Regions from separate parts of the Homo sapiens genome. Here region 1 is linked to region 2. Evidence: fine-mapped expression QTL. A gene starts in region 2. The other region holds a variant in brackets. All regions are shown on one strand. Distances are between the middles of the regions.

Region 1 (2,910 bases), 68 kb before region 2:
GGTGATGTCTTCACCTGGAACTGGCTGGAAGCTTTGTTGCATGATCAGCTGAAGCTTGATGGTCTCTAGGCAAGAGGAAATGAATTTGGTTAAAACATTTAATGGGAACTGCAGGGGGTGGATACCTATGCTGTTAGAAATGTTTGTTATATTGACCAGGCGCAGTGGCTTACGTCTGTAATCCCAGCACTTTGGGAGGCCGAGGCAGGCAGATCACGAGGTCAGGAGTTCAGGATCAGCCTGGCCAACATAGTGAAACCCTGTCTCTACTAAATACAAAAAAATTAGCCGGGCGGGGTGGTGCATGCCTGTAATCCTAGCTACTCAGGAGGCTGAGGCAGGAATGTTGCTTGAACCTGGGAGGTGGAGGTTGCAATAAGCTGAGATTGAGCCACTGCACTCCAGTCTGGGGGCGAGGGAGTGAGACTCCGTCTCAGAAAAAAAAAAAAAGAAAGGTTTGTCATAGAGATTTGCAGGAGAAAAAAAACTTGGTCTGTTTTAGAATCTATGTGTTTCCTTAAAGTCCTAGCATGAGCGACTCCATTTTGGTTTGGTTTGTTGAGGCCTAGTGCATGAGCCTAGTCCAAAACAATGGCCTTCCATAATTTTGTTTAAAAAATTACCCTTTTTGGTTAGGCTGTCATTTAAGTGAGAGTGTGACCAAACCTTAGGGACTTAGCGCCACTCTCAGTTACCATCATTTTGGGTTTCCTATCTCAGCACATCATTTATAGCTTATAGTGTCCTTATGGTTGCACATTTTTTTAGCTCCTGTTATTCCAGTTGAAGAGAGACCATTTGACATTCTAGAGATGGCTGCACGCAAGCATTTAAAACCTTTGAGAGAATAGAGCGCACCAGGGAGACTATTATTATGACTATCGGGAGGATGATACCAAGAGTTTGGAGTATGCTCCTTACCCAGGTTCCCCATAAACCAAACCACCTAAAATCACATAGATCAAAGAATGAACTAGATAAAGAGTTTACTCATGGCCGGGCGTGGTGGCTCATGTCTGTAATCCCAGCACTTTGGGAGGCCGAGATGGGCAGATCACCTGAGGTCGGGAGTTCAAGACCAGCCTGACCAACATGGTGAAACCCCGTCTCTACTAAAAACACAAAATTAGCCAGGCATGGTGGTGCATGCCTGTAGTCCCAGCTACTCGGGAGGCTGAGGCAGGAGAATCGCTTGAACCCGGGAGGCAGAGGTTGCGGTGAGCCGAGATCGTGCCATTGCACTCCAGCCTGGGCAACAAGAGCAAAACTCCGTCTCAAAAAAAAAAAAAAGTTTACTCATTTGACTAAGCAGTCTCTTTGTTAATCCCCTACCACTATATTTCTATAATCTTCATGTGATGTATTTCTCCGTAGGCCACAAGTGCCAGCAGCTGCACAGATACTTCTCTGTTTAGCCAATTCTATCTTAACTTTCACAAGAGAATTTAAAGTCTATTGTATAACTGTAGCCTTTACAGTAGAATTTGCTATAGAACCCATCATGAGGGATACTTTTTTTTTTTTGAGACGAAGTTTCGCTTTTGTTGCCCAGGCTAGAGTGCAATGGCACCATCTTGGCTCACTGCAACCTCTGCCTCCCGGGTTCAAGCGATTCTCATGCCTCAGCCTCCCGAGTAGCTGGGATTACAGGTGCACCACCATGCCCAGCTAATTTTTATGTATATATATATATAT[A/T]TTTTTTTAGTAGAGATGGGGTTTCACCACATTGGCTAGACTGGTCTCAACCTCCTGACTTCAGGTGATCCACCTGCCTCGGCCTCCCAAAGTGCTGGGATTACAGGCATAAGCCACCGTGCCTGGCCCCATTAAAGTTTTTTACCTGCACTGGGCCTTCATTTTTTATCTATTAAAGTATAAAGTTATCCATATATAAGGTTGGCTGCAAACTCCTTCACAAATAAAAGTACATCCCATTAGTGCACATAACAGATGCCTTTTCCACTTTTATTGTTCATAGAGGCATAAGCAAGAACAAATATTGAAAGATAAGAGTTTTATGACAGTAGAAGTCTTAATCTGTGAATTTGGGAAAAGCTTATTTACATCAAAGATGCCATCCTCGGTCAGGCGCAGTGGCTCACGCCTGTGATCCCAGCACTTTGGGAGGCTGAGGCGGGCGGATCACCTGAGATCAGGAGTTAGAAAGCAGCTTGTCCAACATGGTGAAACCCCGTCTCTACTAAAAATATAAAAATTAGCCTGATGTGGTGGCGAGCACCTGTATACTTGGGAGGCTGAGGTAGGAGAATCGCTATTATAAAAAGTAGAGGTTCCTCTTCAAAGACTTTCCTCCCCATCTAATTAGGGATAAATAGTAACTTCTCTTAGAAGCAAAATTTATTCAAAGATCTGTGGTGACATTCTTAAATATCTGCAAGTCATAATAAAGAAATCAATGTCCTTTATGTTCTTAGCTCCCACAATGTAGCCTAAATATTTGCCCTGGCATGCTTATACTGGTCCAAACAAACATTAGGTCATAGCCTGTTCCTCATCCTTATTTGAAGGTGTTTTTACCTTTCTCAGCATTCCACAAGTTACTTCCCCTTCCTTTGTTCTCCTCTGCCTTTGCCTCTTTTAAAAGTTCTAAGTTGCTAGCCAATCGGGACAAATACAAAATGTGAAGTCCCATTCCAGCCAATGGAAACCGGACACAGCAGTAGGGTGGACGCGTCAGGTTATAAATGACCCTGTCTCCTTTGTTCAGTGTACTCTCATGGCAAAACTGCTGACGAGGGTACCCTTTCTGCAGAAAGTAAAAATGGCCTTCCTGAGGAAATTGAATTTATGTTCAAGTGCTATTTCTTTACGGCACTGGGGAACAAGCATTTCTTTTTTAATTTTTTTTATATTTAATATTAAACATTTAATATATTAAGTGAATACATT
Region 2 (2,910 bases):
GTAAGAGGTGGCTGTGGGTGGTTGACCTTTAGGAAGTTGGAGAGACTGGTGTGTTTTTAGCTTGGTTCAAACATCCCTTAGCTTGGGCTGAGGGCCCCCTCTTCTTTCTGTCTCTTATTGTTGGCCTTCCAGGTGGGAGCTGAATGCCATGACCACCAACAGCAATATCAGTCGCCCCATCGTCTCCTCCCATGGGTAGGAGGAAGTTTCTGCCACCTCCCCTCCTGAGCCTGCTGTCATCTTCACTGCCCCTGCCCATCTGTCACCCACCTGCTCCTTTGACCCCTGGACTTGGTATACCTCCATGTGGAGTTGTTGGGCGAGAGGTGTTCTCTGTGCTGTGAATTCAGTGGGGAGCTGTAGCGGGGTGGGGGCTAGGTTCCTCCCCCCTTGGGCCGAGGGCCCCTTCCCCTTGGTGCTCTGTCCCCATCCACCTCCTTTCAGCTGCTCCTGGGCCTCAGCTCTGCCCAGGGCCAGCCAGGTTCTGCTGGGAAGGGAAGGGAATGGGGAGAAGGGAGAAGCAAGCAGTGTCTGAGCCTCAGGAGCTTCCCCCTCCCCCTTTGCCTATCCCCTCCCCTCTGCTTGAGCCTTGAGCCTTGACTGGGAGCTGAAAGGAGTTGCAGCTGTTGGCATGAGACCTCCTTCTCCCCGTCTTGGGGAGGTGGGGACCAGCAGATAAATCCCACCCTTCCTTGAGCTGTCGCTGTACTCTGAAGTTCAGCCAGCTCAGATTTTATAAAAATTAATTAAAATCTCCAAACGTGTTGTGTGTTTTTGTGGAATATGGTGGAGAAGGCTGGAGTTTGCAGTGGGGGCAGGGTGCCGAGGACAAGCACCCTGAGGTTCTGGCTTCTCAGCCAAGGGTATTAGGAAACCAAATGCCACCAAGGCCTGGTCCAAGCTTCTCGGGCGTGGAACCCAGCACCCTGCGACTCGGGCAGAAGGTTGCGACAATGTCTCCAGAGCGGGTTATCCTTTGGGCCCGGCTCCCTGGCCCTCGACCGCGCAGTTTTCTGCCCATTCGTCACCACGTTGAGACCGGGAACGCCGGAAGAGGCGGGGCAGGGGCTGCCGTGAGCGGAAGCGGCGCCATTCGTCTTCCGAGCGCTACTGCCAGCTGATGCCGGGAGCTAACTACCGCGCCGGGGCCGGGGCCGGGGCCGGGGCCCGACGTCCCCGCGGGGCCCGGGACCGCGAGGAGGACGGCGGGGGCCTGGAGCCCGCGGCCGTGGCCCGCGACCTATTGAGGGGTGAGGGCATGGGGCAGGGCGGGCTGGGGAGGGGAAGGAGATTCCCAGGCGGGGCCCTGAGCCTGCAGAGACGGTGCCGGTAAGACTGCCAAGTTCTCTAAGAGGCAGACGCTACACTAGGGGTGCCCCCAGTGCAGTGGAAAGTGGGGGGTGAGAGTAGATGCTTCCGGGATTAGGACATCCTGAGAAGTTTCTTCACGGCAGGATGAGGGTTTTCGGCGATGGGGAACGTATGTGCAATAGCATGGAGGCAGGAAAAGGCATGCATGGCTGCTGAAGGCTTAGTAGATCAGAATTCAGCAGATTCCGTAGACTTTGTTTTTTTAATTTTTTTTTTTTGAGACGGAGTCTCTCTCTGTCGCCAAGGCTGGAGTGCAGTGGCGCGATGTCGGCAAGCTCCGCCTCCCGGGTTCACGCCATTCTGCTGCCTCAGCCTCCAGAGCAGCTGGGACTACAGGCGCCCGCCACCACGCCCGGCTAATTTTTTGTATTTTTAGTAGAGACGGGGTCTCACCTTGTTAGCCAGGATGGTCTCGATCTCCTGACCTCGTGATCCGCCCGCCTCAGCCTCCCAAAGTGCTGGGATTCCAGGCGTGAGCCACTGCGCCCAGCCTGTTTTTTAAATTTTTTATATTTTTTATTTTTTTGAGACAAAGTCTCGCCCTGTAGCCCAGGCTGGAGTGTAGTTGCACCATGACGGCTCACTGCGGCCTCGAACTCCCGGGCCCAAGAGATCCTCCTACCTCAGCCTTTCGAGTAGCTGGGACTGCAGGCGCGTCACCACGCCTGCACGGATGGGTTTGTTTATTTATTTATTTATTTATTTAATGTAGAAACAAGGTCTCACCTTTTTTTTTTTTTTTTTTTTGACGGCGTCTCGCTCTGTTGCCCATGCTGGAGTGCAGTAGCGCGATCTCAGCTCACTGCAAGCTCCGCCTCCCGTGTTTACGCCATTCTCCTGCCTCAGCCTCCCGAGTAGTGGGACTACAGGCGCCCGCCACCACGCCCGGCTAATTTTTTGTATTTTTAGTAGAGATGGGGTTTCACCGTGTTAGCCAGGATGGTCTCTATCTCCTGACCTCGTGATCCGCCCGCCTCGGCCTCCCAAAGTGCTGGGATTACAGGCGTGAGCCACCTCGCCCAGCCAGGTCTCATCATGTTACCAGGTGCCAGGGCTGGTCTCCAGTTCCTGGGCTCAAGTGATCCACCCGCCTCAGCCTCCCAAGGATTACAGGATTACTGTGCCCAGCAAATGCTGCAGGCTTTTTGTTAAGGCACAGTTCTAGCTGCTGGAGATAGTTGTGAATAAAGTAGTCAAACACTCCTATCCTGGCCGGGTGTGGTGGATCACACCTGTAATCCCAGCACCAGGGGAGACTGAAGCAGGAGGATCGCTTGAGCCCAGGAGTTCAAGACCAGCCTGGTAAACATAATGAGACCCGCTTTTCTACTAAAAATAAAAAAATTTAGCCAGGGTGGTGGCCCACGTCTGTATTCCCAGCCACTGAGGAGGCTGAGGCATGAGGATAGTTTGAGCCCAGGAGGTCGAGGCTGCAGTGAGCAGTGATTAGGCCACTGCACTCCAGCCTGGGCAACAGAGCAAGACCTTTTTTCAAAATAAATAAAATTTAAGTCCAGGTGTGGCTCATGCCTGTAATCC

Alleles and levels. Alleles are on the strand shown, and positions count from the first base shown. SD is a standard deviation of normalised expression in the study named.
In carriers of allele A in region 1, the expression in B cells of the gene that starts at base 1,089 in region 2 tends to be higher than with T alone (moderate effect, 0.55 SD a copy in Fairfax 2012).

The links. PIP is the estimated chance that this variant, and not a neighbour inherited with it, causes the effect. A credible set is the group of variants that fine-mapping cannot tell apart.
Region 1: its variant is the best candidate, but not a certain one, in a credible set for the expression of RRP36 in B cells (Fairfax 2012, PIP 0.89).

Annotation. Positions count from the first base shown.
Region 1 is chr6:42,952,057-42,954,966 of GRCh38, forward strand. The region is part of intron 1 of CNPY3-GNMT (CNPY3-GNMT readthrough); the gene reads left to right. Among named protein-coding and RNA genes, the nearest start is that of GNMT, 7.2 kb to the right of the region's middle. The variant A/T (reference allele first, on the strand shown) is at 1,696.
Region 2 is chr6:43,020,535-43,023,444 of GRCh38, forward strand. It overlaps RRP36 (ribosomal RNA processing 36), which reads left to right and starts at 1,089. Exons shown (of 7, transcript NM_033112.4): 1 at 1,089-1,250. The coding sequence starts at 1,121. It overlaps KLHDC3 (kelch domain containing 3), which reads left to right. Exons shown (of 11, transcript NM_057161.4): 11 at 133-760. The coding sequence ends at 199. RefSeq lists enhancers at 641-1,372, 771-880, 941-990, 1,373-2,104 and silencers at 1,081-1,150, 1,161-1,210, 1,221-1,290.